Linked DNA regions of Homo sapiens. The protein of the gene in region 1 purifies or fractionates together with the protein of each later gene. This does not show direct contact. Each region holds a gene or a part of one and is shown in the gene's direction. Other genes may lie near its edges.

Region 1 (2,350 bases):
CTCAAAAAACAATAATAATAATAATATTGAGTACCTACTGTATGGCAGTGTGCGTGCAAAGCATTTTATAAGCTGTATCTCATTTCATCCTGAAAAAAAACCACGCATAACCTTCCAATGCACTTTTTGAGGAGTTCTTGAGGCTGAGATGCTAAATAATGCATCTGAGGGTCTAGGCCTGCAAAGCAGAGTGTACCCAGGAATACCATGCTCCACTGACACACCACACACAGCCCTGTGGTTGTTGGCTGCCTGCGTAAAAGCCTGCCTTAAGGGTCAGAACAAAATCAAAGTTAGTGTCATCTTCACCCTCAGACATCCCTCATCACCCCAAGAGAGACAGGCCTAAGGGCCCTTCTCCAGGGCTGAGTCTCTGTCACTCCAGAGAAGCCCTGTCTGGCTCCACTCTGGACACTGTGCATCCAACCTTGAACACAGCACTGAACCGACTCTTCTAAGGGAGAGTTTCAACTCCTCAACTCCAAAAAAGAAATCTCTCCTAGAACCTTCAGAGTCCCCTCATCCTAGCCAACGTTTCATACCAGCCATTTGGAGAACAAAGTCCATCAGTGAACTTTTCCAGGACTTTTTTTTTTTTTTTTTTTTGCAGTATCTGCCTTCAGCCAGGTAAATAAGTCAGCTGCTAGACAAGGAAGCTGTCCCTTCTCCACTAGTTCTGAGCCCCTACCTTCTCTTGGTCAGGCCACTGGTTGACAATTTGAGAGACTCCGTGTGTCGGAACTGTCTTTCCAGGCTTAAATTCAGCCTGTGTTTCATAACACCCTTTCTCTGCGCTCCTGAGCTTTCAGTGGTGCTCCAGAGGAAAGGAGAGACAGAGCAGACATTTTCACTGCCATGTTTATATCAAAGTACATTTGAAGGCAGAGGGAAAGCGCTCAGGCCTAGGCATGGGGATCCTGGTCTTTTCTCCTATTCTGCTATCAGGAAACGTGACAGCCTTAGCTGAGTCTCTGGTTTTCCCGCGGTTTGTAGAAAAGGAGGTAGCACTGAAAGGCCAGGGCCTTTTCTTCCTCGAATTCTGCAGAACCCTGTGATCTCCTCAGTCTGCCCCTCCAGGAAGAGTGAGGCCAGGGTCCAGCCCCACCCATCGCAGCCCAGCCCAGCTCTATAAAGGAGCCTCCCAGGCAGACACCACTGGGAGTTCCAACTCTGTGCCCTCTTCGGCCATGAACCTCTGTCTTTCTGCATTACTCTTTTTCCTGGTGATCTTACTGCCTTCAGGTAAGACAGTGGGCGTGAGTCTGAACATAAAAGTGGGTGTTCCCAAAGATTGAGATGCTTAAAAAACCCTCTAACTATAAGCCCAGCAACAGGACACCAATATCAAATGGGCCACCATGTTAGGGGCATGGTGAGCGGACCCCAGCTCCTGCCCTGCTCTGCTGTTGCTGCAGCTGGAAGATCTGCCAGTGCACCGGGGACGGGGGTGGATGTCATTGTGCACACAGATCGTGCAGCCACCCAGATTCCTATCTCCCCTCCAATGCCTCTGGCTACCCTGAGCTTTATCTGCCTTGCTGAGTTGTGATAAGAGGTGAGGTAAATCACAACTAACAAGCCATCAACCAGGAGGTGATGGCAAGCCTAGGATTTCTCCCAGCCTCATTAAGATTGATTTTTCTTTTCTGTGGTCTCTCCCCGCTTCAGGAAAAGGTATGTTTGGGAATGATGGAGTCAAAGTTCGCACCTGCACTAGCCAGAAAGCCGTATGTTTCTTCGGGTGTCCGCCAGGATACAGGTGGATTGCGTTCTGCCACAATATTCTGTCTTGCTGTAAAAATATGACACGTTTTCAACCCCCGCAAGCCAAAGATCCATGGGTTCATTAAAAGGATATGTGAATGGCTCAAAGTACTACACTCCTAATCTGTGTGTCAGGATCTTAGAGCTCGTAAGTGAGCCATGGGCAGAAATGAGGACCACATTCTGACAATTTACTGGCAAAATTCCAGAAACATTTTGTAAAGGCAGCACTGCCATGAAATGCATCCCCTGTTATTTTTCCTACCCTCCCATCTCCAATCACTCATTCCTCTTTCAAATTCAAATTCAGGCCAGGCGCAGTGGCTCACGCCTGCCCGCCTGTAATCCCAACACTTTGGGAGGCTAAGGTGAGCAGATCACTTGAGGTCAGGAGTTTGTGACCAGCCTGGCCAACATGGTGAAACCTCATCTCTACTAAAAATACAAAAATCTTCCGGGTGTGGTGGGTGCATGTAATCCTAGCTACTCAGGAGGCTGAGGCAGGAGAATTGCTTGAACCCGGGAGACGGAGGTTGCATTGAAAAGAGATCACGACACTGCACTCCAGCCTGGACAACAGAGTGAG
Region 2 (3,500 bases), on another chromosome or scaffold:
TTGTTTAGGTTACATATCTGAGAGTTAAGTAAGATGAAAGCCTTGTACTATAAAAGTGAATATATTATTTATGTTTTGTTTTGTATATGAGGATGGTGCTACTAATCAACAGTCACCAAATTGTGTCTTATGGAGTCATTTTTCCAGTGGTTATGCCCTATGTAGTGCTAACCAGCCATTGAGACTATGACCTTGACCTATACTATGTGGTGAAGCCAGGAGGTGAAGCACAGATACTGTTTTCAGTAATGTTCTGTTATTATAAGCAAATATTTCCATATGAGGTAGAATGTTACCCAAAGGTACCACCACTACTGCTAAATGAAAAAAAAAATCCTTCTGTCCCTTTTATGTGATTTTTTTTTTTTGGTAATTATTTACTAGTCTTTTAAAGGGGGGAAAAGGCCAGAATATTGTTATCAATATCATGGAGTTACTGCTGTGCTCCAGGCTTTTATTTACAGATAATATTTAGAATATCTTTCGTAATGGTTCTATTTCACCTTGAACTCAACATATCCAATTGATTTTCCCCCTTAAAACTAACTTTATATTCTAACAGCTTCATTGTTTTTCTTGATGTAACACCATTTTCCAGTCTATGTCTAAGGTGCTTTGGGCTTATTACATCTTTTCTTCATCTTCCTGTGTTCAGTCTGTTCTGGGTGGGTCTTGCAAATTTTTGTTTAACATTTCTCTTGGTTTGGCCCCTTCCATCTCATTTCCATCTTTCCATCTTTGCCTAGAAGAGTGCCAGGAAAGAGGCCAAAGCTGCCTAATCAAATTTCTTGCTTTGTTCTTTTATTCTCCAATCTTTTCAATTTAGAAACATTAGATTAATCATCACAGAATATTGATTGTGCCAAGATAGGTATTCGTTCAAGAATAGCAAGTGTCTATTTTACTTGGCAAATCAAGTATAAACTTCTCACTTGTCTGTGAAAATACAGCTGAAAGATGTCTGTCCCTGTAACACTGCCCGCACCTCTCTGCCCCTTGGATTTGTCCAGCTTTTTCCTCCTTAGCTCCCCAGCCCAAATTACACATATGAGTCGATTACCTAAAAGTAATTCATGCTGTCAGCACTTCCTTGTTTTGGTTTTGCTCTTTGCAGGGGTAAGGGGTTCCTGCAAAGAGCAAAGGGTATAAGGGGAGTAGAAATGCCTCCACCCAGTCATTTCTACCTAGTTTTAAAAAAAATACTTTATTGATATATAATTAACATATTGTACAATTCAGTCATTTAAGGTATATAATTCAATGGTTTTTAGTATACTTACAGTTACAAAACCATCACCACAATCAATTTTAGAACATTTTCCTCATCCCCCCACAAAAAGTTACACCCATTAGCAGTCATTTCCCATTGCCCACTCCTCCTGCCCCTGAATTCTTACCCCAGCCCTAGGAACCACTAATTTACTTTCTGTCCCTCTGGATTTCCTTGTTCTGGATACCTCATATAAATGGAATCATACAATATGTGGGCCTTTGTGACCGCCTCTTTCACTTAGCATAATAATGTTTTCAAAGTTCATCCATGTTGTAGCATGTATCAGTACTTCATTCCTTTTTATTGTTGAATAGTATTTTATTGTATGAATACAACACATTTTATTTATTCTTCTCTTCATTAAGTTCTTGTTTCCATTTTGAAATCTTTTCTTATGAGATAAACTCTGATAGCACTTGTAGTTGTTCAACAATATTGCCAGCCAGCCACCAAATGCCAACCAGATTGCAGACTCCTTAAGTACAGGCACTGTTATAGTTTCCTGTAAGGCTTAGCAGAGTGCTGGGTGCATAATATTCACTTATAGATGATAGTTTTCTAACGTGTTCTCTTAGACAGGGTCAGTAAATGTAGTTTGTGAGAACATTTTATGTCTATTATTTAACTTGGTTCTCATTTTTTTTTTTTTTTTTGAGACGGAATCTTGCAAGTGCAGTGGTGGGATATCCACTCACTGCAACCTCCGCCTCCTGGGTTCAAGTGTTTCTCCTGCCTCAGCCTCCCTAGTAGCTTGGATTACAGGCACCCGCCACCACGCCTGGCTAGTTTTTTGTAATTTTAGTAGAGACAGGGTTTCGCCATGTTGGCCAGGATGGTCTCGAACTCCTGACCTCAGGTGATCTGCCTGCCTAGGCTTCCCAAAGTGCTGGGATTACAGGCGTGAGCCACTGCTCCTGGCCTAACTTGGTTCTCATAATAGCTTTCTGAAGTATTAACTAGAAAAAGTCAATATATTTGGAAATTATAAGTTGTGCTCTTGGTTTTATGGTGATTTATTGATACATTATAGAGAAAGATAAGCTGGATCACTCAAAGGACGTAAGTATGTTTTAAAGCAGTACTTCTGAAAATGTCACTGGAAACTGCCTTTTAAGAACATATATTTTTTGTGGAATATTTATTTCTTTAGGCCTTAAATAATAAAAAAGAGACTTATCTAAGTTAATGCTTTACACATCTTGTTTTAAAAATCTTTTCTTTTTTTTAGCAAATGGCAAAAAGTAAATTTGATTCTTGAGGGAGTGGATACGGTTTCAAAAATCCTGTTCAATGAAGTCACTATTGGGGAAACAGACAATATGTTCAATAGATATGTAAGTATATAATGACATTAGGTTAAAAAAAATTTATGTGTGTTTATGTTAATTGCTTTTGTGAGTAGAGAAAAGTAAATGCATAATTGGCCATGTGACAAATATGAGCTCATTAAAGCACTGGATGAGTTACTTGATTTCTCAGTTGCCACATTTGTGGAATAATGGAAACCTTACAAACCCCATGGGGTTAGTGTGGGGATTTAGTAAGCTAATTGTATAAAATGTTGGCAAGTTCTTGGCACATAGGAAGTGTTCAAAACATGCCAATCCCTCCTCTGCTGATACAGTTTCATTGGACAAATGATTTTAAAATAAAATGTCATTTCCTTTCTGGAATAGTTATATTAAGAGATTATATGCTGATCTTCCTTTCCTTTCAAAGGTAGACTTTTCAAAACAAAAATAACTCATTACTTAGAAATGCATGCTGTTCATACCGGAGAGGCAGGTTGTCATGAAGTGTCTAGGAAACCCTTGGCAGTTCAAGGCCACATATAAGTAGACAGAGCAGACATTCCAGAGCTAAAGTTATTTTTTGCTCTATCCATTTCCCTAGGACCATCATTTTGCCAGGAAAAATAGAAGGAGAAGCCTAGAAACTTGGATTGGGTAGGAAAATATGCTTAGTTTTAACTAAAAGTGGGCAACTAAGTGATAGATACTACAGTGTTTCAGAGAAGTGTTCCCTCCTGCAAGGAGGCTAAACCTAGATCGGCATTATATTATGTGTCTTTCATACAAAATGCCTTTATCTAAAATTTTACACACAAGACTACTTCCACATCATGGGTTTGTCTGATTGTTCCCTTTAACTTAGAGCTTTGATATTACCAACGTGGTCAGGGACGTGAACTCCATTGAGCTGCGTTTCCAGTCAGCGGTGTTGTATG
Region 3 (3,500 bases), on another chromosome or scaffold:
TTCTCGTTAAATTCACACTGAAAGTGCTCTTGCAAACTTGGATTTAGTGTTTTTGGTCATGGGGCCCCCATTCAATTGTTTGTTTGCCTTGGGAATATTTGCATTAAATAAAGCCCATATTTTGATGTTTCTATTAAATTTTATACATAATGGAGTCTTGTTCTGAAAAGGTGATGAAGGTGCTTATGTTTTAATTCTTCTGTTTGTCTACTTAGGTTCAATGTTGGATATCATAAAATACATTGTCAACCGAGGAGAACACAAGAATGGAGTTCTGGAAGAGGCAATAATAGCAACAATTCTTAAAGAGGTTTTGGAAGGCTTAGACTATCTACACAGAAACGGTCAGATTCACAGGTATGACCTCTGCAGAGATGTTTAAATTCAGATGTTCATATCTTAAAGAGGTTTTGGAAGGCTTAGACTGTCTACACAGAAACGGTCAGATTCACAGGTGTGACCTCTGCAGAGATGTTTAAATTCAGATGTTCATATCTTCAGCCCTAGTTTGTAAAGAATGTTAAGGAAACACATGTTGCAGGCAGGTATTGACATTACTTTAACTTAGTCTAAATAGATGGGAAAAAAGTACTTAAGAAAGAAACAAGAGAATAAATTTTGATGAATTATATTGGTATCCTTGGGATTGCTTCAGTTGCTTTCACTGAAATAAGAGTGGAATCTAAAAAGGACTACATGGACTCATTTAAAAAGATCAGTTTTGGTAACTACTCTTGAATTATACTAGTTGAACTAGACAGCATCTCTATCTTTCTAATACAAGCAAGACTATCCAAACATTGTACTATGTGAATTATTTTTGATGTGGTGGTGAGAGGGAAGGAAGAGGTACTCATCTTCTTTTGTGACATAAAATGTTAATTCTTTACATAGTCAAATCACATAGAATATGAGTGCTTGATGTTTCAAGTGAGTGAGTGCTACTTGGGCTCTTAGGAATTATTGCAAGTAAATAGCCATTTACCAGTAATACTAATAATGTAATTCTCCTACCCTGAAATTTATATTTAATTATTTCTACTATATTTTTCTTTTTCTTTTTTTTTTTGAGACAGAGTCTTGCTCTGTTGCCCAGGCTGGAGTGCAATGGTGTGATCTCAGCTCACTGCAACCTCTGCCTCCCGAGTTCAAGCAATTCTCCTGTCTCAGCCTCCCGAGTAGCTGGGATTACAGGCATGCGGCACCATGCCTGGCTAATTTTTGTATTTTTAGTAGAGATGGGGTTCACCATGTTGGCCAGGCTGGACTGACACTCTTGATCCCAGATGATCTGCCCACCTTAGCCTCCCAAAGTGCTAGGATTACAGGCGTGAGCCACTGTGGCTGGCCTATATTTTTCAATAATTAGAAAAAAGTTACTTTAGAAATCAAATTTATAAATTGCAAGTTGTCATTTTTCAAAGTACTAAGATTACACAGGTTTTATACGGTGAAGAAATATAATATCTATTATTATAATTAGTATTTATAATCAGTCTCTCACCAGAGAGAAGTTCATTTTTCAGAAAGATAATTAAGTTGGAATTGCATCCCAAATTTAAGTGGAAGTAGAGGAGCTTTACATAGACTGGGCTTTAATACTTGGTAGAATGACAGTAGTGTGAGTTTATGGGCAGTGTCTAACTCTGAAGCATAAAATAGAGAGTCTATTTACTGATGATTTAATTAAATTTGGATAATTATTTCATAGAAAATATTTCTTTCTAAAATCCTAACTCTCCCCCACGAGTAAACTATAAAGTGACAGGTGGATCCTTATACCTTTTTTTTTTTTTTTTTTTTTTTTTTGAGACCAAGTTTCACTCTTGTTGCCCAGGCTGGAGTGCAGTGGCACGGTGTTGGCTCACTGCAGCCTCCACCTCCCAGGTTCAAGTGATTCTTCTGCCTCAGCCTCCCAAGTAGCTGGGATTACAGGCACCTGCCACCATGCCCAACTAATTTTTATATTTTTAGTAGAGATGGGGTTTCACCATTTTTTCCAGGCTGGTCTCGAACTCCTGACCTCAGGTGCTCCACCCACCTTGGCCTCCCAAAGTGCTGGGATTACAGGCGTGAGCCACTGTGCCCAGCCTATCCTTATAACTTTTAAAATCTGTGCTATTATCTTAATATTTATGAAATTATTATGTCAAAGAGCTGCGTTGTATGATATGTTTTAAAATCTTCCTGAGTGAATCAATACACTATAAAGTCTGTACCCTACAATTTATTTTCTATTTTTTTTTCTAATAGGGATTTGAAAGCTGGTAATATTCTTCTGGGTGAGGATGGTTCAGTACAAATAGCAGGTAAAGCTGATAAATAGAAAAATTTTTTACTTGATTACGGAAGTGTTACAGTTTCAAGGAATGTAGAATCATTCCTGAGAAATGAATAAATGCATGTAATCTCTTTTCAGAATGATATTTACAGAATGTTTGGGTCCGAAGGATAACATATTTTCCTTATTGTTTTGATAAGTCATTAGATCATCCTGTGAAAAATGCCATTTTAGTACATAGCTTTTTGATAAAGAATAATTTTATTTTCAATTTTATTATGTTTTCTACCTTTCACATTTTATAATGGTAATACTCATATAACTTCAAGAAATGCACTTGTAAAAACATTTTTCGATAGGTTTGAAAATTTAAAACATCATACACATCAATTAAAAACTAATTTATTTCTTAAGAGGTATCTGAAAGAATTGTGAACATTAAAAATCTGGGCCTTATTTTGTTTTTAACTCTGACCCAACATGGCTATTCTTGACAAAGCTGGTAGGCTGGGGATGCAATGAATGTCTTTTACATGAACACACAATATCAGGTGAGCACCTTTCGTGTTCAAAGCCTCTATTTTGTTATTGGCCCTAGAGTAACCTTAAAGGCCTGGGATAAGATGTAGCCACGCCCATATTAACTCTTGCTTTACCCATGTCGTTGAAAGTCTGTCTCAGCAATCCTTTTAGCTTTCATGGTTTCTTGGGGGAGTGTTCTTGGCATTTTTTGGCTAGACAGTCATTCCCTCTACTGGAGTGACCCTGTCATTGCAGAGACGCGTAAGATGAGCCCACTTGTACCCATCACCTAGTTTCAATAATTATCAATCTTTGGCAATTCTTGATTCATCTGCTGCCCCCCACCCCCACCCCCCGACTCTGGTGCCTCTCCTCATCGTGGAGGCTGGATTTTGTTGTTGAGCCATCTGAGTTAGTGCTTTGTGTGTGCATATCTTGTCCTCATGAGTGGACCTTATCCCATAGGCTAAGGACAGTTTGAAAAAGTACTTCAGTTAAACAAGTAACAGCTAAGAGACATCTGTGGGCAAAGATTTCAAACTGTCCAGCCCCAAGCAGTCTAGTTGTTCAGAGTGCAGGCTCTGGTGTCAGCTGACTTGATCGAAATTCTGAGGCCACCACTTAGTAGCTGTACCACCTTGGGCAAGTTACCAAACCTTCTTAAGACTCAGTTTCCTTAAAGAAGGGTAAAAATATA
Region 4 (3,500 bases), about 82 Mb from region 1:
GTGCAACCTCTGTGGAAAGCAAATTTATGGTGTTTATCAAAATTAAAAATACAGATTATCTTTGCCTGGAAAGCTCTCATCTAGAAATTTCTCATTTGGATACACTTAACTGTATGCCTGAAGAAGTGTTGAATGTTTTTTTCTTGCAACATTATTCCTAAGACAAAAGATTATAAACAAAATAAGATTCTATCAAGATGAGATCAATCAATTAAATTATGATATAGTCATACAATGGTATAGAATGCAATTGTGGAAAAATAAAGAGGCAGTTCTACACATAGTGCTATGGAAAGAAATCTAAGATATATTGAGTAAAAAAGCAAGATTTGGAATAATTTATTCATTCATCTACAAATGTTTATTGAGTACCTGCTATTTATCAGCACTATTTTATGTACTTGGTATTCCACTATTTAGCTTTTTAAAGACCATTATATATGCATATGTGCTTGTATATGCACAGGTTATTTCTGAAAAGACTCATAAGAAACTGTTAACAATGCTGCCTCCTGAGTGAAGAACTGAGTGCCTGGGAATAGTGGGAAAGAGACTTAATTTTCATTTTAAATCTTTTTTTGCTTGGTGCAGTGTTTCACGCCTGTAATCGCAGCACTTTGGGAAGCCGAGGTGGGTGGATCACCTGAGGTTAGAAGTTCAAAACCACCCTGGCCAACATGGTGAAACCCTGTCTCTACTAAAAATAGAAAAATTAGCTGGGCATGGTGGCAGGTGCCTGTAGTCCCAGCTACTTGGGACACTGAGGCAGGAGAATCACTTGAATCTGGGAAGTGGAGGTTACAGTGAGTGAGATCACGCCACTGTGCTCCAGCCTGGATGACAAGAGCGAAACTCTCTCAAAAAATAAAATAAAATAAATCCTTTTGTGCCTTTTATTTTTATATTTCATATATTACCCAAAGATTAATTTTTTAATTATCTTTACCTTTTTTTTTTTTTACTTTTTAACAATTTTTTTTTTTGTGGTGATGGGGGTCTTACTATATATCTCAAGCTGGTCTTGAACTCCTGACCTCAAGCAGTCCTCCTGCCTTGACCTCTCAATGTGTTGGGATTACAGGTGTGAGCCACCATGCCTGGTCTTATTTTTTCAGAGACGTGGTCTTGTTATGTTACCCAGGCTGGATTCAAACTCCTGGGCTTAAGCAATCTACTGCACCCAGCTTCTTAGTAGTTTCATTGGCACTGTTGCCTCCATTGAAAATATTAACTTGATTCTCACGGTATTTGGGGGGTGTATTCTTAGGGATGGGACTAATGAAAGTTTTATGAGTTGGATGGCAATATGAAATTTATTACACTTCATGATGTACTAATTTTGGTGTGTGTGTCTCTGTGTGTGCACATTCAGAATTTTTTTTCCCTGTTTTATTATAAGGATCTACACTATATAGCCACAGGAAACATAAGTGGTATGTTTGCATAAATGTTTCATACACAAATATTGTTCTAGCATACTTTTTTCAGTTAACGGTATGCTCTGATGCTCTGTTAGATTTACCTGATTCTTTTTGTTTGTTTGTTTTTTGAAACAGGGTCTCACTCTTGCCCAGGCTGGAGTGTAGTGGTGTGATCTCAGCTCACTGCAACCTCCACCTACCAGGTTCAAGTGATTCTCATGCCTCAGACACTTGAGTAGCTGGGATTACAGGCACGTGCCACCACACCCAGCTAATTTTGTATTTTTTTTTTTTTAGTAGAGACAAGGTTTTGCCATATTGGCCAGGCTGGTCTTGAACTCCTGGCCTCATGTGATCCACCCACCTTAGCCTCCCAAAGGGCTGGGATTACAGGCATAAGCCTCCTCACCTGGCCTTACCTGATTCTTTTTAATATATTCCATAGTATTTTGTAGCATGGATATACCATCATTCTGCTATTTTAAATATTCGTGTTGTTTCTAACAAATAATGCCTCAGTGAATATCCTTATATACATGTTCAAGTGTTTCTGTAAGTTAGGTATCTAAAAACAAAATTGTGGTGTTATAAGGATGTGAATTTGAAACTTTAATAGATACTACTAAAAGCCTTCTAAGTTGCAGAAACTTATCAGTAATCTATGAAAATACTTGCTTCCCCATCCTAGTGTGACAGAAATGTATAGATAAGAGGTAAGAAAATTTTTGAGGAAAAAAATACTGACTTAATTGTTACGATGACTTGGAAAATGATTTTCTATATTTTACTATGTGAGAATAGGGAAGGCATCACTTCTCTTTTTTTTTGGAGGCATGGACGGGTACGAAGGGATCACTTCTCTACACTTTATTATGGAGATACTTGTTATGCCTTTAATGCAAATAAAGTGTTTTGAGAATTAATAGAATAATAGTTACAATTGGGTTTTGTTAAATATTTTCTGAATATGTAGAAGCTTATATGTTTACTATGAGTTACATCTTTATTTTGTTTCTAAACTGTTCAGTGGAAAGAGACATTAATGGAACATTGTTGTCTCAAGCAACTTGTGAGCTCTGTGATGGAAATGAAAACTCTTTTATGGTAGTAAATGCTTTAGGAGACAGGTAAGCAGTGTGATGGGGGCTAACTTCATTAATATCATCTTATATTAGTGTATAATTTGTACTTTTAAGAGTGTTTTCCTATCATATCACTTAGTTTTCACAATAACCCAAGGAAGGATAGAAGTAGACATTAACAGATACAGAAGCTGAGGCCCAGAGCGTGAGACACACTAGGGTTCAAATTTTGGTCCAGTCTGTTAGTTGTCTGACCTTGGATAGCTCACTACTTCACAATCCCTTGTCTTTAGAATGGTAATGTTACCACCCACTTCATAGGCTGTAATGGCTCAGAAATAATAAGTAATAAAGTAAATAGATACAGTTCTTAGTATAGTGCTACATAGTAACCACTCTGTACAGGGTAGCTATTTTTGTTTGTTGTTACATAATTTGTATATAATCTGTAATATAATTATGTGCTAAGTACTGTACTAAAGCCCTTATGTATTATAATGTTACATAGAAAAACATAAATGTATGCTAATAATAGCCCAGGTACCCTGATTTATAGTCCCATTTTCTGTTGCTTCCTGTTCCCCCTTTGTGCATGTATTTGTGAAACACACACACACACACACACACACCCCTGCCTGCCTATATACTTCCCTCTAATTTAAGCACATTATACCAATTTCAGCATCTTTAATTTATTAGAGGCCTACATCATGACTTCCCTCCGGGCACAGTTTTTTCTTTAGTTTCCAAGTTTAATATGGAAAATAGTTGAGCAGCTTTTCTGAGGGCTACTTAGTGTTGGATCATCTTTTCTCTAAGGCTGACCTGAGTTATGGCATCCAAATACCAATTTTTTTTGCCCAATATTTCCCCAAGCCTAGTGTGTTTTATGTCATGCCCCAGCCCGACTCCTACCTGCTCTATTTTGCAAGTGATGAATACCCATATATTCACTCATCACTGTCCTCATTGGACCAGTACCCTCCCTCCCTCTGTC
Region 5 (3,500 bases), on another chromosome or scaffold:
ATGACATAACAATAAGATTTAATGAGTACCAGCTTTGTGCTAACTACTTTTCTATAACTGGACAGTCCTGATCAGGTTTAATCTTTAACTCTGAAGTAGGTGAACAAGACAGATGCAGTGTCAACCCTCCTGAAACTGACAGTCTTTATGGGTAACAGATAAGTACCCAGGTGCTGTGGCTTGGATATGGTTGGTTTGTCTCCACCAAAACTCATGTTGAAATTTAATCTCCAATGTGATAGTGTTGGGACCTAGTGGGAGGTGTTTGGGTCATGGGGGTGGATCCCTCATGAATGGCTTTGTGCTGTAGTGAGTGAATTCTTGCTCTTTTGAGACTGGATTAGTTCCCATGGGAATGGATTAGTTCCTGTGTGAGTGGGCTATAAAGCCAGGATACCCCCCCAGTTTTGCCTCTTCACACAGGTCTGCTTCCCCTTTGATCTTCTCTGTTATATTATGACACAGGACAGAAGCCCTCGCCAGAAGCTAGAGCCATTCCCTTGAACTTCCCAGCCTGCAGAATCATGAACTAAATAAACTACTTTTCCTTATAAATTGCCCAGTCTCAGGTATTTTGTTATAGCAACACAAAACGGAATAAGATACCAAACAATTACAACACAGAGAGATAAGCCTGAAACGGGAAGTATTGGCTGCTTTCAGAGGACAAAAAAGGGCCTCTTAACCTAGTTTGGGGTAGGAAGCAGACAGGAATGGGCTTCTATTTTATTCAGCAGATATTTACTGAACACCTACTACCTACCGAGTACTATATTGGTATTGGGAACATAGCTATAAATAAGACATGATGGGCTCCAGGAGAGTGTCAGTGGTTTGAAATGGCTTTGGTAGGGAATAGAAGAGCAAACAGATGAGGTATTTGGAAGGACTATCTGCTGGACCAAAGGACCACCACCTTTTCCTGGGCAGTGCTGCAGGCACCCTTCATGCAGCTCTATACTCTGGTTAACAGAGTCCCTTTTCAGGCAAGATAAAAGATTATTAGATTGCAGCTTTCCTTTATATCCCAGTCCTGAGTATTTTAGTTTGCTCATTTTGATTGGCTTAAGTATTTCTTAAATCAACTTTGATAACATATATATAGGCTGGGTGCAGTGGCTTACACCTGTAATCCCAGCACTCTGGGAGGCTGAGGCGGGTGGATCACCTGAGGTCAGGAGTTTGAGACCAGCCAGGCCAACATGGTGAAACCCCATCTCTACTAAAAATACAAAAAAAATAAAATAAAATTAGCCAGGCATGGTGGCGGGTGTCTGTAATCTCAGCTACTCAGGAGGCTGAGGCAGGAGAAAAGCTTGAACCCAGGAGGTGGAGGTTGCAGTGAGCCAAGGTCATGCCACTGTACTCCAGCCTGGTCAATGAGAGCAAAATTCTGTCTCAAAAAATAAATAAATAAAAAGAAAATTAGCTGGGCGTGGTGGCAGACACCTATAATCTGAGCTACTTGGCAGGCTGAGGCAGGAGAATCGCTTGAACACGGGAGGCAGAGGTTGCAGTGAGCCGAGATCATGCCACTGCACTCCAGCCTGGGCGACAGAGTGAGACTCCATCTCAAAAAATCAACTTTGATAACATATATACAGACTTTTTTAGTGAGTTACAATTTGAGAGTTATCTTGTTGAAACTGATCCTCCCCGTTTACTGATTTTACTCCATCAAATATTATCTATCCAACACATTTTTTCCTTTAATGTACCTATGGCATTTCAATATAGCTTTATTAAAATAAAATTGACACAAAACAATCTGTACATATTTAAAGTATGCAGTTTGATGAGTTTTAACATTTGTATACACCTGTGAAAATAGCATCACAATCAACATAATGAACATATGTCCATCACCCCAAAAAGTTTCCCTCGTCATCCCTAGGTAACCACTGTTCTGCTTTCTGATATTACAGATTTGTTTGCATTCTCTAGTGTTACATAAGTAGAATCATACAGTATGTACTTTTATTATCTAACTTCTGTCTCTTGCCATAATTATTATGACTATTTATATTGCATGTATCAGCAGGTCATTCCTTTTTTTGCTGAGTAGTATTCCAGTGTATGAATATACCACATTAGTTTCCTTATTCACCCATCCAATGGTAGACATTGGGTTGTTTCCAAGTTTTGGGCTACTACAAATAAAGTTCTTATGAACATTCATTTTTCAAATACCTATATGGACATAATTTTAATTGCATTTGGTAATAAATTTTGATTTATATTTACATTGATTATATACTCTATTACTTATATTTATATTTACATTGATTTTTTTTTTTGAGACAAGGTCTCCCTCTCTCTTCCTGGCTGGAGTGCAGTGGCATAATCACGGTTCACTGCAGCCTCACCCTCCCGGGCTGAAGCAATCCTCCCACCTTGGCCTCCCTAGTAGCTGGGACCACAGGCATGTGCCACCACTGCCTGGCTAATTTTTTAATTTTTTGTAGACAAGGTTTTGCCATGTTGCCCAGGGTGGTCTCAAAACTCCTAGACTCAAGTGATATACCCGTCTCAGCTTCCCAAAGTGCTGAGATTACAGGCGTGAGTCACCATGCCCAGCACATTGATTTTATATGATCTTAAATTCAGTACCTATTGTGTTAGATACCATGCTAAGTATTTTCATATTGTTAGATTTATGGTACATTTGCCAGGCCCAAATTAGGAAAATATAATGACAAAAAGATTTTTTTTAATCAGTACTATCCTGGAAATATAGGACATGATTATTATGGTTTATTGTTTGTTCATAGTTTGCTGTGTCATAGATTCATATCTTTTCTCTTTAATGACTGTATGGCCTTTGAGAGAAACATACCCCCTATATACTATAGCAAATAGCATATAGTAGCTATTTGCTAAATTTTAAATAACTTTCTGCTCTCATTTATCAAAATAATCGTTCTTTTGCCTCACAGGTTTCTTCCAAGGTGAAATCCAGTCCCACCTGGTATTCAGCATCTTCCTTCTCTTCTTCAGTGGTGAGTTTATTTGGCATAGAGGTTGACTTCTGAGAAGGAATTCAGTATAGTTTTGGGTATCTCTATCTTCTTTACATAATTGTCATCAGAGTGTATGTGAAACTTTCTAGTTTTTTCCTCCTTTTGGATTATTTCCCTCCTGAAATGGATTACCATGTCAAAAGATACAAACATTTTCATGGCTTCTAGAGGTTCTGCTGACCCTGCCAGATAGTTGTCTTCTTCTTAATGACCTTTAGAGTGGTTTTTACAGATCATCTGTCTGTCAACCACTTCCAGCATCTAAAATCTAATAAATAAGGACTATTGCTCAAATTCTTTCTACACAGAAGTATGCACACACTGTACCACAGTAGGTCACCATTTTTTGGTTCATAGACCGCTTTAAAAATTTAGTGTCCCAGCACTTTGGGAGGCTGAGGCAGGTGGATCACGAGGTCAAGAGATCGAGACCATCCTGGCCAACATGGGGAAACCACATCTCTACTAAAAATACAAAAC
Region 6 (3,500 bases), on another chromosome or scaffold:
AAACAGAGACAGAGACAGAGACACAGAGAGAGACACAGAGAGACAGAGACGGGAACAGAGACAGGCAGACAGAGACAGAGAGAGACAGAGACAGAAACAGAGACAGAGGGACAGAGACAGGCAGAGAGAGACAGAGAGACAGAGACAGAGACAGACAAACAGAGACAGAGAGACAGAAACAGGGACAGAGACAGAAAGAGAGAGAGACAGAGGGAAACAGAGAGAGACAGAGACAGATAGAAAAAGACAGAGGCAGAGAGAAGCAGAGACAGAGAAACAAAGACAGTCAGAGACAGACAGAGACAGAGACAGAAACAGAGACAGAGAGACAGAGACAGAGGGGCAGAGACAGGCAGACAGAGAGACAGAGACAGAGACAGCGAAACAGAGACAGAAACATACAGAGACAGAGAGACAGAGAGAAGCAGAGACAGACAGAGGCAGAGAGACAGAGAGAAGCAGAGACAGGGACAGAGACAGAGACAGAAATAGAGAGATAGAGACAGAGGGACAGAGACAGAGAGATAGAGACAGAGAGGGAGACAGAGAGATAGAAGCAGAGAGAGAGAGACAAAGACAGAGGCAGAGAGACAGAGAGAGAAGCACAGACAGAGACAGACAGAGAGACAGGGACAGACAGAGACAGAGAGACCGGAAACAGAGGCAGAGAGACTGAGAGACTGAGAGAGACGGGGTGGTTTTCCCCACAGCATCAACACCAAGCAGGGCTAGGATCACTGAAACAGACTCATCAGACCCGAAGCATGCGCTTTCTCGGGGTTTTTCTGGACTGAGGGGTTTCCTCTCATCCCAGTGTCCAGCTGTGGGGACGCAGGGGCCGCAAGCCCCGGAGTGTCCAGAGGGGAACGTGGCCTCCCCACACCCAGCCCTTCACGAGGCCTCAGGATCCCAGTGGGGGTACCCGAGGCTGCCCTGTCCAGCCAGGCGGTGCGGGGGGTTTGGGGAGAGCCTCTCCCCGAGGTCGGTCTCAGAGGGCCACATGGCCGGTGTGGGCCGGACATTCCCTTTCCAATGGTTGTGCCCACTTCCCTCCAGAGTTGGTGCCAAGCTGGGACCTGGGGGACTTGGAGTCTCAGGAAGTCGTCCGCTGTCTGCAGGGGGTGCATGGGGGATGTGGCCACACACGTCAGAGTGCGGCCCCCTGTGGAAGCCACAGACAGACACGACTCCCCTAAATGAGCTCGCCCTTCTGGCCGAGATGCTCAGCGTCCCCAGCAGGCTGCCCGACTGCCCTGCGATACTGCCCTCCTTCCTGCTGCTCCCACTTTCCCTTTCGGGGGGTTGGATTTGGGGCATTCAGGGATCGCCCTGTTGTTTGCTCATCACACCCATTTCCTGCAAGAGCCACGGTGACCGAGCAGCCTTGAGTTGAGGCAGCTTGTGGGTAGACGCGGCGGGCATCTCGGAGGGGCACGCTCCCTGCCACCCTCAGCCTCCACTCACTGGTCAGGGGCTTTGCGCCCCAGGGCACCCCAGGAACCGAGCCTCCTTTGGGGTCATGGGTGCCTCTCCTGGGAGGGCGTGGATTTTCCAAAGCAGTTTAGAGAAATGAGACCCACAGGCGTTATTTCCCATGGTGAGGTTCTTTTCAGTAACCCCCACCGTATAGCCAGGATCAGCAAAGAGAGGCGGCTCCTCCCGGTGAGACAGGGACCAGCACCTCCCGGACAGGCTTGGGTCTCCCTCCAGTTCCCCCACCTAGTCTCGAGGTCTCACGCTGCCCTCTCCTGTCCAGGGGCTCCCACCTGAAGGAGAATAAGTACCTGATTGTGGTGACCGACGGGCACCCCCTGGAGGGCTACAAGGAACCCTGTGGGGGGCTGGAGGATGCTGTGAACGAGGCCAAGCACCTGGGCGTCAAAGTCTTCTCGGTGGCCATCACACCCGACCACCTGGTAGGCACCGGCCCCCCCCGGCAGATGCCCCCAACCACAGGGAGTGGCGGCTGCAAGGCCCCCGGCAGCTGGGACCGTCTTTTGGTCCTCGGGAGGGTGTGGGTTCTCCAGCCGGCCACCCTTGCCCCTGAGAGGCCAGCCCCTCCTGCTGAGGAGCCTGGAGCGCCCCAGCCCAGCCTCCCCTCTGGCCCTGTGGGAAGCGGCCCCGGCCGTCAGGGGTCCCAGCCCTGCTCAGCCCACCCTGAACACTGCCCCCAGGAGCCGCGTCTGAGCATCATCGCCACGGACCACACGTACCGGCGCAACTTCACGGCGGCTGACTGGGGCCAGAGCCGCGACGCAGAGGAGGCCATCAGCCAGACCATCGACACCATCGTGGACATGATCGTGAGGCCCCTGCCCAGGAGACGGGGAGGCCCGCGGCGGCCGCAGGTGGAAAGTAATTCTGCGTTTCCATTTCTCTTTCCAGAAAAATAACGTGGAGCAAGTGGTAAGAGCCCTCCCCACCACCCCCAGCCGTGAGTCTGCACACGTCCACCCACACGTCCACCTGTGTGTTCAGGACGCATGTCCCTATGCATATCCGCCCATGTGCCCGGGACACATGTCCCCTGCGTGTCTGCCCGTGTGCCCGGGATGTGTGTCCCCCTGCGTGTCCACCTGTGTGTCTGCCCATGTGCCTGGGACATGTGTCCGCCTGTGCGTCCATCCGTGTGTCCGTCTGCCCATGTGCCTGGGTCGCATGTCACCCTGTGTCCCAGCCGTATGTCCGTGGCTTTCCCACTGACTCGTCTCCATGCTTTCCCCCCACAGTGCTGCTCCTTCGAATGCCAGGTGAGTGTGCCCCCCGACCCCTGACCCCGCGCCCTGCACCCTGGGAACCTGAGTCTGGGGTCCTGGCTGACCGTCCCCTCTGCCTTGCAGCCTGCAAGAGGACCTCCGGGGCTCCGGGGCGACCCCGGCTTTGAGGTGAGTGGTGACTCCTGCTCCTCCCATGTGTTGTGGGGCCTGGGAGTGGGGGTGGCAGGACCAAAGCCTCCTGGGCACCCAAGTCCACCATGAGGATCCAGAGGGGACGGCGGGGGTCCAGATGGAGGGGACGGCGGGGGTCCAGATGGAGGGGACGGCGGGAGTCCAGATGGAGGGGATGGCGGGGTCCAGATGGAGGGGACGGCGGGGTCCAGATGGAGGGGACGGCGGGGTCCAGATGGAGGGGATGGCGGGGTCCAGATGGAGGGGACGGCGGGGTCCAGATGGAGGGGACGGCGGGGTCCAGATGGAGGGGACGTCGGGGCTCCAGATGGAGGGGACGGCGGGAGTCCAGATGGAGGGGACGGCGGGGTCCAGATGGAGGGGACGGCGGGGTCCAGATGGAGGGGACGGCGGGGTCCAGATGGAGGGGACGTCGGGGCTCCAGATGGAGGGGACGGCGGGAGTCCAGATGGAGGGGACGGCGTGGTCCAGATGGAGGGGACGGCGGGGTCCAGATGGAGGGGACGTCGGGGCTCCAGATGGAGGGGACGGCGGGGGTCCAGATGGAGGGGACGGCGGGGTCCAGATGGAGGGGACGGCGGGGTCCAGATG
Region 7 (3,500 bases), on another chromosome or scaffold:
TATTGATTCCATGTGCGTATTATCAGACAATTGCAAAATAAGGCCACTTAAATTTTTCCTAAGATAGAATGGCTCACTTAATTGTTAATTTTCTAGCAGCCTGGAATTGAAAGATATATAACTGGATGTTTAAGCTTAACAGAATAGTATTTTTTTTAACTTTAAAATATGGTATGCTTTTAATTTTTGATCGTGCTGCCACCCTAAATGCCTTTTTATCACATTTATCATAATTTGACATTCCAAATGAGTTGTAACAAATTAATAATTACATTAAAATGATTACTTTACAGAAGTATTTTATTGGAATAATAACATAAGTTTTAGATCCCAGTATTTCAAATGACATGTAGTAATACTTGGTTATTTGGTAATTTTTCTTTTTAATTGTAGGTGTCTGTGGAAGAATTAGAACATAGTATTAGCATTAAAATAGCTAAAGAAGCTGTGATGGATATAAATAAACCTGGACCCCTTTTTAAGCCGGAAAATGGATTGCTGGAAACCAAAGTATACTTTGCAGGATTCCCTCGGAAAGTGGAAAGTGAACTCATTAAACCGGTAATGATCCAAGCTTGTATCATTCATCATGGATGAGTTCCTTTTGTCTGTAATAGATTTGAATATGTGTGTTTCTGAGAATCAATAGAAGTTGTTTTGTTAAGCATACTAAGTGTGACAACTTGAAATGATCATGGAAAAATAACATTAGTAACCCTTGAAATTATATTAATGAAATAAAAAAATGACGTAGTGGTTTTGTGCCCATTTAAATCCCCAGCATAAATCATGAAGTGGATTTCTAAAATTCTCAAGTTAACACTTGAGAATGTTAACACTAATGTTAACATTAGTAATGTAATGTTCAGTGTTAACATCATGATAATCCATACTCAGTTGTTAAACATATAAATTCATATATTTAAGTCCAAAATTACACCATTTTGTAAAAGCCAGTCAAAGGACTTTCTCAAGTCTATTTTTAGGACTTAAATGCAAGAGCTAAAGAATAGCACATAAGGTGAAATTTATTGTTAAATATTTACTATCTTACATCCGTCTTTCATTCTCTGGAAATTCGTAGTTACTTTAACTTTTAAAAGATTTCCATTATATGATATTAAGCTTGAATTAATTAACCCATGTTGACATGAGTATACCTGTTGTTTGAAACTGAGAAATTAATACACTTTAAAAGTAAAATAAATTATTCAAAAAGTATCAATCATTTATGAAACGGTTATTACATGTCTTGAGCCTGGCAGGATACTTGATGGAGGCTAAAGAATGCAAACACTTTTGTGTCTGAAGAGACTTAGAGTCTGATTGGCAAGACAAACCCATATTATAAATGCCACTAAAGAAAAACAAGGCCAGGCGTGGTGGTTCACACCTGTAATCCCAGCAATTTGGGAGGCCGAGGCGGGTGGATCACCTGAGGTCAGGAGTTCAAGACCAGCCTGGCCAATGTAGCAAAACCCCATCTCTACTAAAAGTACAAAAATTAGCCAGGCGTGGTGGTGGGCACCTGTAATCCCAGCTACTCAGGAGGCTGAGGCAGGAGAATCGCTTGAACCAGGGAGGCAGAGGTTGCAGTGAGCCAAGATCCTGCCACTGCACTCCAGCAAGACTCCATCTCAATCAAACAAACAAAGAAGATAAACAAGACAACTTAGAGCCCAGGGCCACAGCTAGAAGCAAATATAGAACTTGAAAGCAGAAAAGTTACCACTGGATGATGTAGGAGAGGCAGGTGGGGCTTGAAGTGTTAAAAACCATTAAGATCCCACTGAGGGCTTGTGATAGTATGAGCTTGCTTGTACTGAAAAAGACTGTCCATCTGAAGAATACTTTGAAAAGAAAAACTTAAATAAAATTCAAAATATTTTCAACTATTATCAAAGAAAGGATTTTTTTTCTCTTAATGAAAACCTATACTCATAATCGAGCCACTGTTTAAGTTTAAAATGCACTCCTTGACTTGTATTTTAATTTGTTAGATTAACCCTCGTCTAGATGGATGTATACGAAGCTGGAATTTGATGAAGCAAGGAGCTTCTGGAATAAAGGAAATTATTCAAGAAAAACAAAATAAGCATTGCCTGGTTACTGTGGAGAAGGGCTCCTACTATCCTGGTTCTGGAATTGCTCAATTTCACATAGATTATAGTAAGTGATTTTCCATTTATCTCTATTTTCTCATTAATGAGTAAATTTATTCATTAACAAACAGTAATAATTTATTTGTGAAACATTATTGAGTATCTACTGTGTGCCCACTCTAGTCTTATGCTTATTCATACTATTATATACCTTTTACAAAAATTTTTCAGTGTATTGGGAAAAATATAAAGGCATTTGAATGTGCTTGTGTTGTTATTTCAGGTTTATCAGTACATAGCCTGATTCCTTATGGGTAAATTCAATTGACCTATTTTAAAGTTCACTGATTTCTCACTTGTATGGAGTCTATCAATGAATGCATCAGAAAGATTCATCTTCATTTCTAGCATTTCTATTTGATGCTTTCTTAAAATTTCTACCTCCCTGTTGAAATTCCCTATCTGTTCACACTTGTCTAGTTTATGTACTGAGTTTTCAATGTATTCATCATAATTATTTTAAATTCCCTGTCTCGTAGTTCCAACTGTGTCATATCTGAGTCTCGTCATTTTGTTTGCTTTGTCCCTTGACCAAGTGTTGTTTTTCTTGCATCTTTGTGTACCATGTAATTTTTGGTTTAGATTTGGGCATCTTACGTATAACAGTAGAGACTGAGATAAAGAATATTTGTGTCTGGAAATGAGCACATTTCTTTTGCTAGGCTCTTAGTAATGGGATTGAATCAATCTAGTGAAAAGTTGAGCTTCTTAAGTTTTGTTGGTGCCAGGATTACCCTTAATGCACCACAGGTTTCAGATCTTTTATTTTGTTTTGTTTTGTTTTTGAGATGGAGTCTCACTTTGTCACCCAGGCTGGGGTGCAGTGATGCAATCTTGGCTCACTGCAACCTCTGCCACCTGGATTCAAGTGATTCTTCTGCCTCAGCCTCCTGAGTAGCTAGAACTACAGGCGCCCGCCACCACGCCCGGCTAATTTTTGTATTTTTGTGTTTTTGGCCAGGCTGGTTTTGAACTGCTGATCTCATGATCCACCCCCTTGGCCTCCCAAAGTGCTGGGATTACAGGTGTGAGCCACCGCACCCAGCCTCAGATTTTCAAAATACTACCTTCTGCTTAGAATAAGGGAATGGTTTGGTAGCTAGTTTTTCTTTTTCTTTTCTTTCTTTTTTTCTTTTTTTTTGAGACTGAGTCTCACTCTGTCACCCAGGCTGGAGCTCAGTGCCACAATCTCGGCTCACCGCAACCTCCACCTTGCAGGTTCAAGTGATTCTCATGCCTCAGCCTCCTGAGTAGCTGGAATTACAAGGGTGCGCCACCATGCCCTGCTAATTTTTGTATTTTTGACGAGGTTTTGCCATGTTGGCCAGGCTGGTTTCA

What was found.
Region 2: the proteins of DEFB136 (region 1) and MANBA purify together in Homo sapiens (affinity purification with mass spectrometry; one large-scale study listed by BioGRID and IntAct). This does not show direct contact.
Region 3: the proteins of DEFB136 (region 1) and STK39 purify together in Homo sapiens (affinity purification with mass spectrometry; one large-scale study listed by BioGRID and IntAct). This does not show direct contact.
Region 4: the proteins of DEFB136 (region 1) and TMEM67 purify together in Homo sapiens (affinity purification with mass spectrometry; one large-scale study listed by BioGRID and IntAct). This does not show direct contact.
Region 5: the proteins of DEFB136 (region 1) and ALDH6A1 purify together in Homo sapiens (affinity purification with mass spectrometry; one large-scale study listed by BioGRID and IntAct). This does not show direct contact.
Region 6: the proteins of DEFB136 (region 1) and COL6A1 purify together in Homo sapiens (affinity purification with mass spectrometry; one large-scale study listed by BioGRID and IntAct). This does not show direct contact.
Region 7: the proteins of DEFB136 (region 1) and PROS1 purify together in Homo sapiens (affinity purification with mass spectrometry; one large-scale study listed by BioGRID and IntAct). This does not show direct contact.

Annotation. Positions count from the first base shown.
Region 1 is NC_000008.11:11,973,437-11,975,786, reverse strand, and holds DEFB136 (defensin beta 136 precursor), read left to right. Parts: upstream 1-1,187; coding exon 1,188-1,242; intron 1,243-1,668; coding exon 1,669-1,850; downstream 1,851-2,350. UniProt on the Homo sapiens protein: Host defense peptide that exhibits antibacterial and antifungal activity. Exhibits antimicrobial activity against E.coli, S.aureus and C.albicans (in vitro).
Region 2 is NC_000004.12:102,722,969-102,726,468, reverse strand, and holds part of MANBA (beta-mannosidase precursor), read left to right. Parts: intron 1-2,501; coding exon 2,502-2,607; intron 2,608-3,427; coding exon 3,428-3,500.
Region 3 is NC_000002.12:168,160,596-168,164,095, reverse strand, and holds part of STK39 (STE20/SPS1-related proline-alanine-rich protein kinase), read left to right. Parts: intron 1-215; coding exon 216-357; intron 358-363; exon of another isoform or gene 364-374; coding exon of another isoform or gene 375-454; intron 455-2,253; coding exon 2,254-2,309; intron 2,310-3,500. UniProt on the Homo sapiens protein: Effector serine/threonine-protein kinase component of the WNK-SPAK/OSR1 kinase cascade, which is involved in various processes, such as ion transport, response to hypertonic stress and blood pressure.
Region 4 is NC_000008.11:93,761,394-93,764,893, forward strand, and holds part of TMEM67 (meckelin isoform 1 precursor), read left to right. Parts: intron 1-2,448; coding exon 2,449-2,548; intron 2,549-3,500. UniProt on the Homo sapiens protein: Required for ciliary structure and function. Part of the tectonic-like complex which is required for tissue-specific ciliogenesis and may regulate ciliary membrane composition.
Region 5 is NC_000014.9:74,074,454-74,077,953, reverse strand, and holds part of ALDH6A1 (methylmalonate-semialdehyde/malonate-semialdehyde dehydrogenase [acylating], mitochondrial isoform 1 precursor), read left to right. Parts: intron 1-2,936; coding exon 2,937-2,999; intron 3,000-3,500. UniProt on the Homo sapiens protein: Malonate and methylmalonate semialdehyde dehydrogenase involved in the catabolism of valine, thymine, and compounds catabolized by way of beta-alanine, including uracil and cytidine.
Region 6 is NC_000021.9:45,984,770-45,988,269, forward strand, and holds part of COL6A1 (collagen alpha-1(VI) chain precursor), read left to right. Parts: intron 1-1,756; coding exon 1,757-1,916; intron 1,917-2,174; coding exon 2,175-2,303; intron 2,304-2,385; coding exon 2,386-2,406; intron 2,407-2,729; coding exon 2,730-2,750; intron 2,751-2,840; coding exon 2,841-2,885; intron 2,886-3,500. UniProt on the Homo sapiens protein: Collagen VI acts as a cell-binding protein.
Region 7 is NC_000003.12:93,883,397-93,886,896, reverse strand, and holds part of PROS1 (vitamin K-dependent protein S isoform 2 preproprotein), read left to right. Parts: intron 1-393; coding exon 394-561; intron 562-2,000; coding exon 2,001-2,169; intron 2,170-3,500. UniProt on the Homo sapiens protein: Anticoagulant plasma protein; it is a cofactor to activated protein C in the degradation of coagulation factors Va and VIIIa. It helps to prevent coagulation and stimulating fibrinolysis.